Regions from separate parts of the Homo sapiens genome. Here all the other regions are linked to region 3. The links come from fine-mapping of genetic effects on gene expression. A gene starts in region 3. Each other region holds a variant in brackets. All regions are shown on one strand. Distances are from middle to middle.

What was found. PIP is the estimated chance that this variant, and not a neighbour inherited with it, causes the effect.
Region 1: its variant is fine-mapped to the expression of OCLN in whole blood (TOPMed, PIP above 0.99).
Region 2: its variant is fine-mapped to the expression of OCLN in whole blood (TOPMed, PIP above 0.99).

The regions. Positions count from the first base shown.
Region 1 is chr5:69,512,745-69,519,709 of GRCh38, reverse strand. It overlaps OCLN (occludin), which reads right to left. Exons shown (of 9, transcript NM_001205254.2): 4 at 5,601-5,762. Among named protein-coding and RNA genes, the nearest start is that of SNORD13B-1, 23 kb to the left of the region's middle. RefSeq lists an enhancer at 1,718-2,599. The variant T/A (reference allele first, on the strand shown) is at 3,369.
Region 2 is chr5:69,460,261-69,467,225 of GRCh38, reverse strand. No RefSeq gene overlaps it. Among named protein-coding and RNA genes, the nearest start is that of OCLN, 29 kb to the left of the region's middle. RefSeq lists a silencer at 4,478-4,646. The variant G/A (reference allele first, on the strand shown) is at 2,914.
Region 3 is chr5:69,489,361-69,496,188 of GRCh38, reverse strand. It overlaps OCLN (occludin), which reads right to left and starts at 3,399. Exons shown (of 9, transcript NM_001205254.2): 1 at 3,289-3,399.

The DNA.
Region 1 (6,965 bases), 23 kb before region 3:
ACTGTATTTTCCAAATCATCCATACTTAACCAAATAAAATATTTAATTAAAAAAATCAGATCTGAAATTTGAGGGCAGAACAAAACAAAGACCTGCAAAGTTTAATTAAACAAATCTTAAAACATTTAAAATACAAACTGGTATCCATCTGAGTGACTATAAAAGACCAGGTTAAAAACCAAGCAGCGTGCAAACATGAGCTGTTTATTTTACAAGGAACAAGATATCCAGAAAAAGGAAGGGGGAAAAAAAGCCCTAAGAAGGGCAGAGAAACCACTGTGTTGAGCCAACAGGGACAGGGAATTATAAAACTCTAAATTTTCTCACAGATTATACAAAAGGGATAAAACTTGTTTTAAACACTGAAGGCACAGCTTTTGACTACCCTCTGCTCTGAGAGGTGGGAGGGCAGGAGGCGTGTTATAATCCTGAAGATGCTAAAAATCCAAGAAGGAAGTCAGTAAGATTTAGTAACATAATAAAATTCTAGACCGACCCCAATCTGTAGGGAGGGATTAAACTAATATTGAGTAGCTAATTGTTACTGTAGTACTTTTTTGTTTTGCTTTTTTGAGACAGGGTCTCACTCTGTCACCCAGGCTGGAGTGCAGTGGCGAGATCATGCCTCACTGCAGCCTTGACCTCCCAGGCTCCAGCAATCCTCCCACTTCAGCTTCCCAAGCAGCTGGGACTACAGGCACCTGTGCCCACGTCCGGCTAATTTTTTAAATTTTTTGTAGAGATAGGGTCTTGCCTTCTTGCCCCAGATGGTCTTAAACTCCTGGGCTCAAGTGATCCTCCTTGGCCTCGCAAGTACTGGGATTACAGACATGAGTTTTTCTTTTCCCCCCGAATCAGCCATTATTAGCTATATGGGGAGTAACCTGTCTCAGCTCTTTGCAATCAATCAAACCCAAATTTTAATTCTCCTTTAGTGCAAGTAGTTAATTCTAGATTCTCATCCACTATTTTAAGTAGAGATTGTTTTGATATTAATTTCTCATGACCAAAAGGAAGAAAACTCCCTAATCTACTCCACTGTGAACAGTTTAGATGCAGGATGACACAATTCCACAGCGATGGCCACATTATCAGGGTGAAACTAATCAGGCAGAAATGAGAGTAACAGGCTACATCTGCCTGTTCCATCAATTAAGGAAATAATGAGAACGTGGTATTGAATTCCGCGACATGAACTTGGGCAGGTGAGGGGAGAATAGAAAGAAAGGCAAAATATCTGTGGTTAAACCACCTCCAAATAATTTATTTTAAATAGGCTTTCTGAGGCATTTCAGTTCAAAAAACTGAAGGGCAGAGGAAAAGAAATGAGGAATTTGCCTCTGGTTAAGAATCACATAAAACATTAGTTTGGGCAAAATCATATATCTGCTATTCAACAGACAATTCTTTTACATACAATGAAAATACTTGTTACTAGAGAGAAACAATGAAGTCCACATGCAACAACCCACAGGCTATCAAATTTCCAGAGGTTCAAGGAGGAATTTTATTAAAATAATACCTTCTTAAAAGCTAAGTAGTTCTTTCACCTTAATCATCATCACCTCCATAAGTTACAACAGCTATCTTTTGCCAAATTATCAAAAGCAACTAGAACTGATTAAACCTTCATGACAGTAAAATCAGATGAGAGGCCAAAGTTCACTGGGACTCTAATATTACTGGCATTGGTCTCCCTTGAGTCGGGTTTGTTGTTTTTAAGCCTCTTGAAACCTTAAGTAAACAAATCTAACTGCCAACGAAAACTAACACACCCAGAAACTCTCAGCGAAACATTTACTTCATAGCTCATAATATAGACCTGTCCTATTCCAGCTACAAGTGGCCTTGCCTGGAGGTAAATGTCGAAAGAAAACACTTCCTAACACCTTCACACTTTAAAGTGAGGGAAAAAAAAAACAGGGCTTCAAGTCAAGGGCAGGGACATAAGAACTATCGTCTCAGTGGTGAATACATACCACAGCCTTCCTGGCTTTCCTAAGACTGCTTCATTTTTGCTCCTTAATTAACCAGAAAAAAATTTCATCTATCTTCCTAGATTTCCTTAAAAATCAGACTTACAGAATGTTAGAGCTAAGCCTTCAAGATATTGTCTTGCCTATAATCCCAGCACTTTGGGAGGCCAAGGCAGGCAGATCACTTGAGGTCAGGAGTTCGAGACCAGCCTGGCCAACGTGGTGAAACCCCATCTCTCCTAAAAATACAAAAAAATTAGTCAGGCATGGTGGTATGCACCTATAGTCCTAGCTACTCGGGAGGCCAAGGCAGGAGAATCTCTTGAACCCGGGAGGCGGAGGTTGCAGTGAGCCAATATTGCACCACTGTACTCCAGCCTGAACGACAGAGCCAGAAGCCGTCTCAAAAAAAAAAAAAATATATATATATATATATATTAATGTCTTTACCCCAGACCTGACTAGCAGCAGCCAGCATCCATCTTTAGCCACCCCACTCCCAGTGGCCAAAATAAACCTTCCTGGGAACCTGTGGCCATACCTTCATGACAATAAATCAATCTGCTCAAAGAACCCTGTGATGTCAGTTTCTGAGGTAGCTTCTAACAGGACCCTAACAGGATTTCTTAGAAAAAGTTTCACTCCAAACATCTTTTCATTTTTATTTTTTTCCGAGACAGGGTCTCACTCTGCCATCCAGGCAAGAGTGCCAGTGGCAGAATAACAGCTCACTGCAGCTTCAACCTCCCATGCTCCAGTGATTCTATCACCTCAGCCTCCTGAGTAGCTGGGACTACAGGCATACATCATCATGCCCAGCTAATTTTTTTTTTATTTTTTGTAGAGACAGGGTCCCATTATGTTGCCTAGGTTGTTCTCAAACTCCTGGACTCAAGTGATCCTTCCACCTTGGCCTCCCTAAGTGCTGGGATTCCAAGTGTGAGCCACCACACCTGGCCTCTAAAAAGCTCTAAAAACAGTTTACTAACACTCATTTGGGAGGCATCTTTAAAGAGGAACTTTCCAGGCTTTCAGCAAATCACATCATATAGGAAGCTTGGTAAGATTAATAGTATATATTTTTAAAAGGAAATTTTTCTAATCTGTCTTTGCCTCACTGAAGTATTTCATAATGTTAACTCAGAATTAGTCACTGTGGTTTGTCATGCTGTTATCTATGTCAAAAGTTTTGCCCTCTCCCTCTCCCCCCTCTCCCTCTCCCCACGGTCTCCCTCTCCCTCTCTTTCCACGGTCTCCCACTGATGCCGAGCCGAAGCTGGACTGTACTGCTGCCATCTCGGCTCACTGCAGCCTCCCTGCCTGATTCTCCTGCCTCAGCCTGCCGAGTGCCTGCGATTGCAGGCGCGCGCCACCACGCCTGACTGGTTTTCT[T/A]ATTTTTTTGGTGGAGACGGGGTTTCGCTGTGTTGGCCGGGCTGGTCTCCAGCTCCGAACTGCGACTGATCCGCCAGCCTCGGCCTCCCAAGGTGCCGGGATTGCAGACGGAGTCTGGTTCACTCAGTGCTCAATGGTGCCCAGGCTGGAGTGCAGTGGCGTGATCTCGGCTCGCTACAACCTCCACCTCCCAGCCGCCTGCCTTGGCCTCCCAAAGTGCCAAGATTGCAGCCTCTGCCCGGCCGCCACCCCGTCTGGGAAGTGAGGAGCGTCTCTGCCTGGCCGCCCATCGTCTGGGACGTGAGGAGCCCCTCTGCCTGGCTACCCAGTCTGGAAAGTGAGGAGCGTCTCTGCCCGGCCGCCATCCCATCTAGGAAGTGAGGAGCGCCTCTTCCCGGCCCCCATGCCATCTAGGAAGTGAGGAGCGTCTCTGCCCGGCCGCCCATCGTCTAAGATGTGGGGAGCGCCTCTGCCCCGCCACCCCGTCTGGGATGTGAGGAGCGCCTCTACCCAGCCGCGACCCCGTCTGGGAGGTGAGGAGCGTCTCTGCCCAGCCGCCCCGTCTGAGAAGTGAGGAGACCCTCCGCCTGGCAACCGCCCCATATGAGAAGTGAGGAGCCCCTCCGCCCGGCAGCCACTCTGTCTGGGAAGTGAGGAGCGTCTCTGCCCGGCAGCTACCCCATCCGGGAGGGAGGTGGGGGGGTCAGCCCCCCGCCCGGCCAGCCGCCCCGTCCGGGAGGGAGGTGGGGGGGTCAGCCCCCCGCCCGGCCAGCCGCCCCGTCCGGGAGGGAGGTGGGGGGGGGTCAGCCCCCCGCCCGGCCAGCCGCCCCGTCCGGGAGGTGAGGGGCGCCTCTGCCCGGCCGCCCCTACTGGGAAGTGAGGAGCCCCTCTGCCCGGCCAGCCGCCCCGTCTGGGAGGGAGGTAGGGGGGTCAGCCCCCTGCCCGGCCAGCCGCCCTGTCTGGGAGGTGAGGGGCCCCTCTGCCCGGCCGCCCCTACTGGGAAGTGAGGAGCCCCTCTGCCCGGCCAGCCGCCCCATCCGGGAAGGAGGTGGGGGGGTCAGCCCCCCGCCCGGCCAGCCGCCCCATCCGGGAGGTTAGGGGCGCCTCTGCCCGGCCGCCCCTACTGGGAAGTGAGGAGCCCCTCTGCCCGGCCAGCCGCCCCGTCCGGGAGGGAGGTGGGGGGGTCAGCCCCCCGCCCGGCCAGCCGCCCGGTCCAGGAGGTGAGGGGCGCCTCTGCCCGGCCGCCCCTACTGGGAAGTGAGGAGCCCCTCTGCCCAGCCACCACCCCGTCTGGGAGGTGTACCCAACAGCTCATTGAGAAAGGGCCATGATGACAATGGCGGTTTTGTGGAATAGAAAGGGGGGAAAGGCGGGGAAAGGATTGAGAAATCGGATGGTTGCCATGTCTGTGTAGAAAGTGGTAGACACGGGAGACTTTTCATTTTGTTCTGTACTAAGAAAAATTCTTCTGCCTTGTGATCCTGTTGATCGGTGACCCTACCCCCAACCCTGTGCTCTCTGAAACATGTGCTGTGTCCACTCAGGGTTAAATGGATTAAGAGTGGTGCAAGATGTGCTTTGTTAAACAGATGCTTGAAGGCAGTATGCTCGTTAAGAGTCATCACCACTCCCTAATCTCAAGTACCCAGGGACACAAACACTGCAGAAGGCCGCAGGGTCCTCTGCATAGGAAAACCAGAGACCTTTGTTCACTTGTTTATCTGCTGACCCTCCCTCCACTATTGTCCTATGACCCTGCCAAATCCCCCTCTGTGAGAAACACCCAAGAATGATCAATAAAAAAAAAAAAAAGTTTAAAAGGCCTGCCACCTGCTATTCCAAAAACACTCTTGCCAATCTTGACCCACGAGAGCACCTTTGGCAATGGTTTCTGTTTATCTCCAAAATGATAAGCAGAAAAATAAAAGGGAGTAGAGGGAAGAAGTAGTTTTTGTTTTGCAAAGGCCAAGTTCTTTCTGCATGATTTTTTTAGAAGCCATTTCTTTTCAAAACCAAGATTCACTCCTTGAAAATGGAAATCTGATTTTCACCTTTTAGTAAAACCATTTCCACTTAGCCCATCCTCTTAAAATTCTGAGTAAAAACCAATGCAACAACCTTTGCAACATATACAAACATTAATTCTAAGAATAAAGTTTAACAAAGCACTAAAAATTCAGACACAAATTTGGGGCTTTAATAAAAGATGTAAAGTTATTTTTTAACACTTACCCACTCCTCGACATTGGGGGGCTGCTCATCATAAATGTGTTCCTTGTCCCACAAAATATTGGACTTGTCATACCTGTCCATCTTTCTTCGAGTTTTCACAGCAAAGAAAATTATTAAAGCAAAAGCCACAATAATCATGAACCCCAGTACAATGGCAATGGCCTAAAAAGGAGTGGAAAATATTGGCATAATTAGATTTTAATTGCTTAATCACAATTCACCCTCTACATATTATTAAAACCCTTATCTACCCTAAGGCCCTACTAAATCCATGTGGTTTAATTGATAGAAAACTGAAGCAAATAGTTACATTTCAGACATATCATAAAACCTAACCCACACTAACTGGGCTAAGGCCAGCAAATGTACACACACGTACATACTGCTTGACTCAATCCTCAGAAAATGCCTAATGTTAGGAACTATCAATCATCACCCTCATTTCAGAGCTGTAAAAAACTAGTTCCAAAGCTTGTACACCTACGGGCCAAGCTTTGTGCACCTACGAGAATGGCCAGTAAAGTAACTCAATCATTGGTATACTTCTAAAGGGCCTGAAAAATGCTACTCTCAAAAGTATTCACAGCTTTGAAATAGCCAATCATGCTTGTAATCTTGTTCAAAACATATGCTTGGCAAGCCTTTTTACACTGAATGTAAATTTCTGTCCATAGATCTCTATCTTACCAAAAATGATGAAGACATGGATCTAATCAAGCTATAAATAGCAAATTGACTAATGATTGATTTGGTCTGGCAGGTTTCTCTGTTTCAGGAGTCTTGCATACTACTAGAAAGGGCCCTGTAACAAAGAAACTTCCTACTCTTAACAGTTCTCCCAGTGGTGATAGGATATTAAATGGTATATTGGCCTGGGAGGCACTTGAAGTTGAGGGAAATATCAGGCCTCTACCCTGGATGTCTGCTAATGGGAACAAGAGGCTCTCCTTCCAGCTGTCTTGACAGTGACATCATTTTTCAAAGAGTAAGTAGTAAGAGAACTAAGAGGGATAGGGGTGTGGTAGGATAGGAGTACCAACCCTCAGTCCCTATCTACCATGGACATGTCTAAATGGCAACAACGAGCACTGTGAAAACCTACGTCTGCAGGGAAAACCTTCAGTCTTCTAAATAATGGTAGACAGATACTAGAGGTCTAACTCCAAAGGAGTGACTCATTCAGGAATGGGAACTCCTGAGTTAGTGTAAGAAAAAAGGAAAAACAAGGGAAAAAAGATCAGTAACTCAGAAACATTTCAGATATTAATATAATCAGTATGACTCATGGTTACTAAAGTAGGTTTCTCAACTCCAACCTGCACATTTGAATCACTTGCTTAGCTTTTAAACATACTAACTTACACT
Region 2 (6,965 bases), 29 kb after region 3:
GAGCTGAGATCATGCTGTGTCCGGAATTGGTTCCTTACGGTGGATTCTTGGTCTCGCTAACTTCAAGAATGAAGCTGCAGACCCTCGTGGTGAGTGTTACAGTTCTTACACGTAGTGTGTCCGGAGTTTGTTCCTTCAGATGTTCAGATATGTCCAGAGTTTCTTCCTTCCGGTGGGCTCGTGGTCTAGCTTGACTTCAGGAGTGAAGCTGCAGACCTTCGCAGTGAGTGTTACAGCTCTTAAATGTGGCGCATCCAGCGTTGTTTGTTCCTCCCGGTGGGTTCGTGGTCTCACTGATTTCAGGAGCAAAGCTGCAGACCTTCGCAGTGAGTGTTACAACTCATAAAGGTAGTGCGGACCCAGAGGGAGCAGCAGCAAGATTTATTGTGAAGAGCAAAAGAACAAACCTTCCACAGCCTGGAAGGGGACCCGAACTGGTTGCTGCTGCTGGCTCCGGTGGCCAGCTTTTATTCCCTTATTTGGCCCTGCCAACGTCCTGCTGATTGGTCCATTTTACAGAGTGCTAATTGGTCCATTTTACAGAGTGCTGATTGGTCCATTTTTACAGAGTGCTGATTGGTGTGTTTACAAACCTTTAGCTAGTCACAGAGCACTGATTGGTGCATTTTTACAGAGTGTTGATTGGTGCATTTACAAACCTTTAGCTAGACACAGAGCGCTGATTGGTGCATATTTAGAGTACTGATTGGTGTGTTTACAAACCTTTAGCTAGACACAGAGTGCTGATTGGTGTGTTTACAATCCTCTAGCTAGACAGAAAAGTTCTCCAAGTTCCCACCCAACCCAGAAGCCCAGCTGGCTTCAATTCTCAATGCCACTGCATTCCAGCCTGGGCTACAGAGTGAGACCCTGCCATAAAAACAAACAAACAAAAACCACACAAATAACATAAAATAAAATATGATGACCCCAACAGAAAGGTGTTTCTAGGCTGGGCACGGTGGCTCATGTCTGTAATCCCAGCACTTTGGGAGGTGGAGGTGGGTGCATCACGAGGTCAGGAGTTTGAGACAAGCCAGGCCAACATGATGAAATCCTGTCTCTACTAAAAATACAAAAATTAGTCAGGTGTGGTGGCATGCACCTGTAATTCCAGCTACTCAGGAAGCTGAAGCAGGAGAATCTTTTGAACCTGGGAGGGAGAGGTTACAGTGAGCTATGATCGCACCATTGCACTCCAGCCTGGGCGACGTAGTGAGACTCTGTCCCAAACAAACAAACAAACAAACAAAAAGGTATTTCTATAAAAATCAAGTTAATTGTTAAAAGACTCATAATGATGTTGCTTTAGAAAAAAAAAATGTTGGCTAGGTAGGGTGGCTCACGCCTGTAATCCCAACACTTTCGGAGGCTGAGGCTGGAGGATCCTGTGAGCCCAGGAGTTTGAGACCAGCCTGGGCAGCATGGCAAGACCCCCTCTCTATGAAAAAATTAAAAATTAGCCAGGCGTGGTGGCACACACCTGTGGTCCTAGCTACTCAGGATCCTGAGGTGGGAGGATCACTTAATCCCACAAGGTCAAGGCTGCAGTGAGCCGTGTTCACACCACTGCACTCCAACCTGGGTAACAGAGCGAGACTCTGTCTCTAAAAAAAATTAATTAATGAAAAATGAAAAATGAAAAAAAATTAAGACAAACTATGGCACCCATATGTCACTTTTTGATGTTTAGCTTTAATCTACTTTTTTGAATTGACATTCTAATTACTGATCCCAGCTGTGTCAGGTAAGAGAGCAACAATCTGTTGACTTCAAAATTATCTTACCTGAACAATAGGAGATATGAACTTACTTAGGGGTTGGAAGATTTATTTTAATTATGACCCCACAGAAAAGATTCAAGACAACAAAACTTTAAGATAAGACTTTCTAATATATTAGGTAACAGAGTAAACTTAAATGAGATATTTGTTTACCTTTATTTTTATTTATTATTATTTATTATTATTTTTTGATGGGGTCTTGCTCTGTCACCCAGGCTGGAGTGCAGCGGCAAGATCTCGGATCACTGCAGCCTCCACCTCCTGGGTTCAAGCAATTCTCCCACCTAAGCTACCTGAGTAGCTGGGATTACAGGGGCACGCCACCACACCTGGCTAATTTTTGTATTTTTAGTAGAGACAGGGTTTCACCATGTTGGGAAGGCTGGTCTTGAACTCTTGACCTCACGTGATCCACCCACCTTGGCCTCCCAAAGTGCTGAGATTACAGGCGTGAGCCACTGCACCCCGGCCTATTTTTATTTTTTAATATTTATTTATTTTTGAGACAGAGTTATGCTCTTGTTGCCCAAGCTGGAGTGCAATGGCGTGATCTCGGCTCACCGCAACCTCTGCCTCCCGGGTTCAAGCAATTCTCCTGCCTCAGCCTCCCGAGTAGCTGGGATTACAGGCATGCGTCACCACACCCAGCTAATTTTGTATTTTTAGTAGAGACAGGGTTTCTCCATGTTGGTCAGGCTGGTCTTGAACTCCCGACCTCAGATGATCCGCCCGCCTTGGCCTTATTTTTATTTTTTTAGAGACGGAGTCTGACTCTGTCACCCAGGCTAGAGGGCCGTGGTGTGATCATAGCTCACCACAGCCTTGAACTCCTGGGTTACAGTGATCCTCCCGCCTTGTTCTCCCAAAATGCTGGTATTACAGGCATGAACCACCATGCCTGGTTGCAGTCTTACCTGTTTTTTTTCAAAAATGTTCTGACTATTCCATCCTATTGTAGCCTCTTCAGAATTCTCTCTCTCCAGGATTTAAGGCGCTATCAAGGTCTGTCAATCCTGAGATGAGTTATGTGAAAGTATTTAAGAAAGGATAGGGCCGGGAGCGGTGGCTCACGCCTGTAATCCCAGCACTTTGGGAGGCCAAGCCGGGTGGACCACGAGGTCAAGAGATC[G/A]AGACCATCCTGACCAACATGGTGAAACCTCGTCTCTACTAAAAATACAAAAACTTAGCCAGGCATGGTGGTGGGCAACTGTAGTCCCAGCTACTCGGGAGGCTGAGGCAGGAGAATCACTTGAAACTGGGAGGTGGAGGTTGCAGTGAGCCGAGATTGTGCCACTGCACTCCAGCCTGGGTGACAGAGCAAGACTCCATCTTAAAAAAAAAAAAATGATAAGGACTAAGGACTATATACATGTAAAAGTATAGTACTTCCTTCTCTTTCTCATTCTGTCTCTCTCTCTCTTTCTCTCTTTCTTTCACAGGATCTTGCTCTGTTGCCCAGGCTGGAGGGCAGTGGTGAGATCATGGCTCACTGCAACCTGGAACTCCTGGGCTCAAGTGATCCTTCTGCCTCCTGCCTCAGCCTCCAGAGTAGCTGGGACTACAGGCTTGCTCCACCACATCTGGCTAATATATACATCTAATATATTATATGTATTATATACATCTAATATATTATATGTATTATATACATCTAATATATTAGATGTATTATATACATCTAATATATGTATTATATACATCTAATATATGTATTATATACATCTAATATATGTATTATATACATCTAATATATGTATTATATACATCTAATATATGTATTATATACATATAATATATGTATTATATACATATAATATATGTATTATATACATATAATATATTATATGAATATATATATAATATATTATATGAATATATAATACATATACTATAGTATATGTATTATATACATATACTATAGTATATGTATTATATATTCATATACTATAGTATATGTATTATATATTCATATACTATAGTATATGTATTATATATTCATATAATATAGTATATGTATTATATATTCATATAATATAGTATATGTATTATATATTCATATAATATAGTATATGTATTATATATTCATATAATATAGTATATGTATTATATATTCATATAATATAGTATATGTATTATATATTCATATAATATAGTATATGTATTATATATTCATATAATATAGTATATGTATTATATATTCATATAATATAGTATATGTATTATATATTCATATAGTATATGTATTATATATTCATATAATACAGTATATGTATTATATATTCATATAATACAGTATATGTATTATATATTCATATAATACAGTATATGTATTATATATTCATATAATACAGTATATGTATTATATATTCATATAATATAGTATATGTATTATATATTTCATATAATATAGTATATGTATTATATATTCATATAATATATATATTATATATTTCATATAATATATATATTATATATTCATATAATATATTATATATATTATATATTTCATATATATATATATTTTTGAGATGGAGTCTTGCTTTGTTGCCCAGGCTGGAGTGCAGTGGTGCCATCTCGGCTCACTGCAACCTCCGCCTCCCGGGTTCAAGCGATTTTTCTGTCTCAGCTTCCCAAGTAGCTGGGATTACAGGTGCACGCCACCACGCCCAGCTAATTTTTGTATTTTTAGTAGAGATGGGGTTCCACCATGTTGGTCAGGCTGGTCTTGAACTCCTGACCTTGTGATCTACCCGCCTCAGCCTCCCAAAGTGCTGGGATTACAGGCGTGAGCCACTGCGCCCGGCCTCTGGCTAATATTTTTAAAACATTTTTTGTAGAGCCAGGTCTTGCTCTGTTGTCCACACTGGTCTCAAGCTCTTGGCTCAAGCGAAACTCCTGCCTTGGCCTCCCATAAATGCAGGAATTACAGATGTGAGCCACTGTGCCCTGCCTTAGTATTTCTTGAGTTGTTATTTAAATGTAAATATTCCCTTGTCTTTAATGCAGCAGAAAATTCCTCAAGAGCCAAAAATACTTTTTAAATTTTTAAAATTTAAAAGTTTTTAAATTGTTTAATTTTAAATTTTAATAAATAAATAAATAAAAATTTAAAAAAATTAAAAATTTTAAAGGGCACTTCATAAATCTCAAACTGCCCTGGTCCTCACAGTCTTTCTAACTTGGCTGAAGATAGCTCTGCTTTTGCTGAGAAAATGTAGATCACTTTCCTCTCTCTCAAAGGATCTGTGGAGTCATCCCTCTCCTCTTACAACCTCTGCTCCCTCTCCTCACATTGTACACTCAGATTTCAAAATCTTGGAGGACGCACCTCCCTCATCCTTCTCGGGGTTAGCTTTATGTTCTCCGAGTGCACCTCCCAAGGGGCAGCCCACTGATTCCAAATTGGAAGTGCTTTCCTTGGTTCTTATGAACCAATGCAGCAGTTTTTTCTTTTCTGTAAGTAAATTTTTATATTGCACTAAGGACTCCTAGTAACTTTCTTCAGGAGTTACTAAGGATAACATGTCTTTGCTATCCAACACCTAGGGTATTAGGCCGGCTGTGGTGGCTCATGCCTGCAATCCCAGCACTTTGGGAGGCCAAGCTGGGAAGATCACTTGAGCCCAGGAGTTCAAGACCAGCCTGGACAACATAGTAAGACCCCGTTTCTAAGACAAAAACAAAAACTAAAACCCTGGGGTATTAGCACTTAAGTTGACAGAGGAATTGATTTGGCATTGTACTGAAAAGTTGAGCTGGCCGGGTGTGGTGGCTCATGCCTGAAATCCTAGCACTTTGGGAGGCCGAGGTGGGCAGATCACTTGAGGTCAGAAGTTCAAGACCAGCCTGACCAACATGGTGAAACCCTGTCTCTACTAAAAATACAAAAATTAGCCGGGTGTGGTGGCGGGCGCCTGGAATCCCAGCTACTCGGGAGGCTGAGGCAGGAGAATTGCTTGAACCTAGGAGGTGGAGGTTACAGTGAGCTGAGATCATGCCACTGCACTCCAGTCTGGGCAACAGAGTGAGACACCGTCTCAAAAAAAGGAAAGAAAAGTTGAAAAGTTGAATTGCTGGTAACTATGTGAAGCTCCCACTATGCAAATACCTACATCCTTGGGATTCCTCAATTTTCTAGTTAGATAGGTATGTTATCAGTACTTTATGTGTTGACTCAGACAGCTCGTTAGGTATTAGCTTGGCTTAGTCTTTCCTTTAAAATGTCAATTATTAGTTTAGCTTCATTATTATCAATTTGGTGTTTCCTTTAGCCAACTGTATAATTTTTGTGATGCTCATTTGCATGAGCATTTTTTTTTTGACACGGAGTCTCGCTCTGTTGCCCAGTCTGGAGTACAATAGCATGATCTCGGCTCACTGCAACCTCCGCCTCCCAGGTTTAAGCGATTCTCCCGCCTCAGCCTCCTGAGTAGCTGGGATTACAGGTGCGTGCCACCACGCCCAGTTAATTTTTGTATTTTTATAGAGATGGGGTTTCTCCATGTTGGTCAGGCTGGTCTCAAACTCCTGACCTCAGGTGATCCACCTGCCTCGGCTTCCAAAGTGCTGGGATTATAGGCGTGAGCATCAGGCCCAGCCAAGTAGGCTTTCTAGGCCATAATTTTCAAGGAATTCGACTTCAAGATGTGTTAGTTTGTTATTCTTTTTTTTTTTTTTTTTGAGACGGACTCTTGCTCTGTCTCCCAGACTGGAGTTCAGTGATGTGATCTCAGCTCACTGCAACCTCTGCCTCCTGGGTTCAAGAGATTCTCCTTCCTCAGCCTCCTGAGTAGCTAGAATGACAGGCGCCCACCACCAGGCTGGTCTCGAACTCCTGACCTCAGGTGGTCGGCCCGCCTCGGCCTCCCAAAATGTTGGGATTACGGGTGTAAGCCACCACGCCCAGCCGGTTTGATATTCTAATAGGATTCTTCTATATCCATATTGCTAAATCAGAGGTTTGTATAATTTCCTAAAAATATGCTTGCACTATGACACTTCATTGGTTATGTGCTTCTCATGAATTTGTGCTATTTATATAACATGGAAGCCAGGTAGGTGTAATGAAATGACTGCGTTCTTTTTTATTTATTTATTTATTTTTCGAGAGGGAGTCTCGCTCTGTCACCCAGGCTGGATTCAGTGGCGCGATCTTGGTTCACTGCAGCCTCTGCCTCCTGG
Region 3 (6,828 bases):
AGGCGGAGCTTGCAGTAAGCCAAGATCGTGCCACTGCACTCCAGCCTGGGAGACAGCGAGACTCTGTCTCAAAAAAAAAAAAAAAAGTTTAAGTTGTGCCTTATATTAAATGATTTAGACTACAGGCACATCATTAGTAAATTGTCTAAAAATTTGAAGTTAGGCAGATTTTGTAATAGACTCTGTGTCAGAAATTGTATTTTTAATAAATCTTCCAGGTGATTTTTAAACACATCACATATTTTGAGAATTGCTGTCTACAATAAAGGTGTCAATCCAAAAAGGACATTGATCTTGCAATTTCCTGTCTAGAAAGCCCAGATCTTTTACACAACAGACACCTGCTGTTCAGGTCTCAGCTCAGACGTCACCTTCTGGGAGATGCCCTCCCTGTCCCTCACTCCATCACACAAAACTTGTTTTTTTTTTCAGAGCAAACTCCCCTCTGCCCTCATACCTAAAATATAGGTATCATCTCCACCGCATCTGGAATGCCCATATCCCAGACATCAAATGTCTATTTTGACCATCATTTATATCCCTGGTCGCTGGAACTAGCCCTGGCACAAAGTGATTGTCAATGAGTACTCAATTAATAAAACCAACAGTCAATTATTAGAGTTGGGATTTCAATCCAGCAGTGAATGCCTTGAAGTTCTTCACACAACACTCAATAAACGTTATTTTTTCCAACTTCAGTTTGTCAAATGTAATTAAGTGCGTAGAGTCTAAGAGAAAGGGAGAAAAAGAAGACAGAACAGTCTGAGAATCACCTGTGAGCCTGTTAGAAAGGCAGAATCCCAGGCCCCACTCCTGACCTCCCAATCAGAATCTGTGTTTTAATAGGATCCCTAAGTGATTCATACCACAGCCAAGACTGGAATCACTGGGTTACGGAACAGCGGCAAGCCTAGGGGTTAAAACAAAAAGCCTAACATAAATCTGCATGGTCTGTTTACTCTCTTATTTCCATAAATAGTAATTTGATGAAAAAGATCCATTAATATTCCAATCAAATAAGCCTTAAAATGCAACTGAAGAAAACTTCCTTCTGGGAGGTTCCTAGGAAGATGAAAGATATTACATCAGATCATTTATGTGGTTAAAAGTAATATACTATTTTGAAAAGGTAGTAATTCCAACACTACCTTTAGAAGAAAACAAGAATTTTACCTTGATATCAAGCAAAATGCGGGAAATCTTGTATCAGGCTACAGTTACTAGTCAATGGTAGAAAAGTCCAGAAAAATTCCCCAAATCTGGTTCTGGAATATCAAGGACCGCTGCTTCTGATACTCCTTCCCATATTAGCTGAAGCAGTTTGCAAGCAAGCCCACCTGCAACGTTTCCCCCACGGCATTTGCCCACTTTTAAAATGGAGTTCTACTAAGGCCTGCCTTTTAGAGTTGTTGGGATAATTAAATGAGAAAATACAGAATGCTTTTACCACAGTGCCTCACGTGCAGGAGGCACTGCTGCCCACTATTTCCCGAAATGGCCTGGAAACTGCCAAAAGGTGGAGAATCATGTCTTACCGATCTCCCTATCCTCTGCTCCGTCACCTAACAAAGGAGGCCCCTAATAACTAAATAAATTGCAAAACGACCAAAAAAAAAGTGTTGCTTTGTTTGAGGAAATATCTCTGCCTCCCACACACACTTAAGATGTCTATTTTAAAGCACCACTAAGAAAATATTCATAAAGGCTGGGTGTGGTGGCTTACGCCTGTAATCCCAGCACTTTGGGAGGCCAAGGCGGGCGAATCACCTGAGGTCAGGAGTTCGAGACCAGCCTGACCAAATGGCAAAACCCTGTCTCTACTAAAAATACAAAAATTAGCTGTGCATACTAGTGGGTGCCTGTAATCCCAGCTATTCGGGAGGCTGAGCAGGAGAATCGCTTGAACCCGGGAGGCAGAGGTTGCAGTGAGCCCAGATGATGCCACTGCACTGGGGGACAGAGCCAGACTCCGTCTCGGAAAAACACACACACACACACACACAAGCACCTCATATGTACAGTGCAAAAGAACTACTGTTACTATTGTTACACTTGGGAACGCCTAGTTTTCTATCACACCAAGAATCACCAAAAAACACCATAAGTGCCTTCATGGGAAACGTTTCTCTTTTCCAGGTATCCCAATAATACACCTGTTGCCTAAGGGCCACACACTGACTGGCCTGGAAAGCCGCCGCCTCCTCCTCGAGCAGGGTAATTCCCCAAGCGGGCAGTGTGGCCAGCGAGCCCCGGGTCCGGCCTAAGGATGCCGCGGCTTTTCCCTCGGGCCCGGTGGCTTCCCGAGGAGCGCGAGGGGCTCGGCGCCGCTCCCAACCCCTAGGCGCAGAGGCCATCTTGGCCCTCGACCCCTGCTCCCCGCACGCTTCCTCCGACGCAGGCAACATGGCTGGCGCGCGGGGCCGGCCCAGTCCCGGAGGTCCCCAAACTCCGTGGCCCGGCTGGGCGCGGGTCCCGGCTTCCGTGCGCACCGAGGCGCTCCCAGGCAGCGCGCGCCCACGTTCGCCGGGCAGGCACCGCCCGGAGGCAGTTCCGCCCCCCTGGGGGCAGCCCTTTTGGTCACGGATGAGAATCCGAAGCGTGAGCAGCTTCCCTCGAAGTCCAGCCTCACTCGAAATTAACTCCCCGCCCCCCAGCTTAAATCGACGCGGGTTCACACAACTCGCAACAAGTGGATTCGAAGTAGCCAGTGTGGCCCACACCGTGACTCCTGGAATATTTCACAGATTGAATCCAGCCCCCGTCTCCCCGGGATATCCAAAGGGGTGGGGTGGGAGCGGAAGGAATGAAATTCCCCCCGGGATCTAAGCCGCCCGGGCCGCCGAACAGCCGCCTCGCTGCAGCCTCAGGCTTAGGACCCCCAAGGAGCTGGGCGCAGGATCCCTCTCCATGAAGGCCGCCCCCCCAAACTGCAGCCCCAGAGCGGATGCAGGATCGTCGCTGTTCAGGAATGTCGTGCCCCATAAAAGTGAAAAGTTGCCCGCGCCGCTGAGGCACTGCTAGCTTTCAGCGTTTCCGCGGAATAAAGCTTGATCGGCGGCTCCAAGCCACCCCTCGCCCCAGGAGGCAGCCTCCCAAGTTGGCCGGTGCTGCTCTCTCCGCAGACCCGCGCCTCTCTGGTTCCCACGAGTCCCAGCTCGGGGACGAAACTGCCACCGAAACCAGCGCGGAGCGTCCTCCCCCCGGCACCTCCCCTAACATAGTCGCCGCGGTCCCCCCACGGGGACCCTCGGGCTCCCGTGCGCCCCTGACGCCGCGCCCAACACTCACCCGCTCGCCGCAACTGGGCCCGACCCTCCGGGGGCCAACGGTGCCAGGGAGCGCGCTCACCTGGCGGGCGCACCTGACGCCGCACCGACCGCCAGCGCTCAGCCGGGGACTGGGCTGGGGACGTCTCCTCCCCCTTCTCCCTCTCCTTTCCCTCCTCCCTACAACCGGCCCTGCCCCCGGGCATGCGCACCAACGTGGAAGGGGGTGCGGGAAGCCTGCGGGCCAGCGCCGCGAGTCCCACCTGCTGCGTCCTAGACCGGCTCCTCGGCGCTCTGGACCTGGCTCTCGGTTCCTGCCGCCTCCGCCAGAGGAAGCAGGGAGGGAGAGGTGGACGCGGGAGTGTAGGTGTGGTGTGTCGGCCTCCTCCCTCGGTGACCAATTCACCTGAAACTCGGATGGGAGGGGGCGGGAGGACGCGGTCCTGCTTCCCACACCCTGCCAGCGCGCTGTTAAAGGAACCGCGCGACGTTGCGGCCCGAGAGGCGGGGCGCAGAGGAGAGGCGCGGGCTCCTAGGGGGCAGCACGGATGGGGGTCCCTGACCACCCCGGGGTGCGTTCGGTGCTCCGCCTGCTTCGGATGGAACCTTGGGGTGTCTGATGGAGAGAGGCCGAACGAGGTCCAGAGGGGACTGTTTCCTCCGGAAAGAGGGTCCAGGCACTCAGCACTTTGATAGGAAAGGCACGTCCTCACAGGACACTTTTCTGCTTCCAGAATTTGATTAAACTGTTGCTGGAAAAAGGCATCTAGATGTATTGCTCCAACGAAAGACTCCTGGGAAAATTTCAAAAGTCGTGTGTAAACATTGGCGCTGTTTCTGAATCTCTAGATTCAGAATAAGAGACAATTACTTAGAGGGGTTAAAATGAGGGTGAACTACTGTAGGTGTTAGTTGCCATCCAGCAGGCTAAAGTGCATAATACAGTTTACACATCACCACCCCAGGGTCCTCTCCTGCCCACCCGGTCCGCTCTTGAGGACCGGGAAATTTAAACTATTATGGCTCTTTGGCCTGAGAAAAAGCACCTTATACGTTGTTTACCAACCTGTAGTGCTTTAAGAACAACACTACTTAAAAAGCAAAATAAACTTGGTTTACTTTTTTTTTTTTTTTAAGAAAACGAAAAAGCACCTTAGTTCCGGGTGCTGTATTCTATTTCTTGATCTGGATTCTGTTTCCAAGGGAAATTTCATAGTCTGCACTTAACACTGTGTATATTTTTATGTATGTTGGTTGTTTTTCAACATATTTTTTAATTGTACTCCAGGATGTGGCAATTATAGTTCTTGGCATTTAACTATCTGCATTGAAAGCGAACTTTTAGGTTTCTTACATCCTGCTTGTCTTTGTGTTCCAATCTGGAATGTCAGCATTGCTAATAAATTTCTATCCAATCCCACCCACTTCTCTACCTTTAATTAAATGGTTAGAGATGTGACTCTCCCATACATTAGATCTTAAGGCACAATTCATACTTGAGGAAGTAAAAGCACTATATAAATATGAGGTATTTCAGATGATGGCAGCTTTAATGGGTAATTAATTTAATTGGTATTTTTTTCGTGGAAGTCATTGCTACAAATGCTTTAATATGACTATGTAGTTTTTGAATGATGCAGTTTAAATTGGTATTGTTAACACTGGGGAAGTCAGGTTAATCCCCTTAATGTTCCCTGTCAGATTACTGAAATCTCCAAACATTCCATTTGGTTTATAATTAAACAAGGGAACATTTCCTAATACTCTCAGATTTGTAAACACATGTCTATTATTTTATAATGTATTTTGACATGTTCTGAAGAGATCTTAGGAGTTTTTTTCCACTTTATAAAAGAGAGTTCACATACCATAAAATTCACCCTTTTAAAGGGCACGTACAATTCAGTGGGTTTTAGTATACTCACCAGATTGTACAACCATCACCACCATCTAATTCCATTTTAATCGCCCCCAAAAGAAACCCCATGCCCATTAATAGTCACTCCCCATTTCCCCTCTCCCCTCATCCCTCGGCAACCACTAATGTACTTTCTGTCTCTATTAATTTGCCTATTCTGGACATTTTATATGAATGGATAATACAATATGTGCCCTTTGTGTCTGTCTTCTTTCACTTAGCATAATATTTTAAAGGTTCATCCATGATGTAGTATGTATTGGTACTTCATTCCTTTTTATAACTGAATAATATTCCATTGTATCGATGTATCACATTTCGTTTAATCATTCATCTGTTGATGAACATTTGGGTTGTTTCTCCTTTGGGGATGTTATGAATAATGTTACTATGAACATTTGTGTACAAGTTTTTGTGTGGACATATGTTTTCGGTTCTCTTGGTAAATTAGGTTTTTAAATTAAACTTTTTATCATTTTAAGATAACTTATGCATATCATGTTATTTTTCTTATTCCCACCCTAAACCTAAACTCAAAGACATGTTGTGTTGGGTAGAAGGCTTTCATATTCTATTTGCTTTCCCAATTCATTCCTTCAACTATTTTCTGAGTGCCTAATCTGTACACACACGAGTGAACAAAACTCAAAAATCTCTGTGAAACTTACTTTCTAGTTAGTTCTGAGTTCATCCATATGGAATAATAGGATTCATTAATTGTATGAATTCTATTTTATTCGCTTGAGATTAATTTTCTAAACAACAACATCAAAAGAACGGTTAACTATTGTCCAATATTGTGTATATTTCATAGTTGAAAGTGTCTAGAAAGAAAATCCAGCCTTAAAACTTAAACACATCATTCTTCAATACCAAAACAAAATTTGTTGGATGTTAAATGATGCCATGCTCAATTTAATCATGTTACATAATCATAAATTATAGCAAAATTTAATTACTATATTTTTTACCAAATATTCCTTCTTGGCAACTCACAGTAGTATTGAGTAGTATCCACTATTGAATATTATTTGATGAAAATCCCCGTGACTCAGAGCAATGTAAATATTATTTTCAGAACCCCATGATTAGAAACTTGTTGACTTTACCTGCAGTCAAATGGATAAGATGAAAAGACAATTTGTTTCTCCTTTTCTATGTGTAAAAGAGAAACTTAAGAGCTCAGATTATGGTGTCAGAAATCTCAGTTCAAATTCCAGTGTTGCTACTTGGTAGCTGGGTAGGACTAAAGGAAATTAAACTATGTAAGGTTCATTTTTTTCCACCGTAAATTTGAGATGATAATAAACAATACTGTCTTTATAAGTCTGTTGGTGGGAATGTGGAGCATTCACCAAGACAGACTATATGCTGAGCCACGAAACAAGTCTCAATAAATTGAGCAAGCCATTGCTGTATCCTATATGCCTGAAATAGTTCCTGTCACATAGGAATTACATAACTATGTGTTGGATGAATGAATGAATGACTATAGCCCTGCTTCCCAAATCCAACATGCCTGTGGAGTCTTGTCCTCCTCTCAGATGGCCTCCTGCTATTGTGAAACCCGCACGTTCCTTAGTAGCATTTCAAGGCTTACATCTCTAGTACTAGGGTTTAGAGGAGAAAAGACGGGAGATTAAC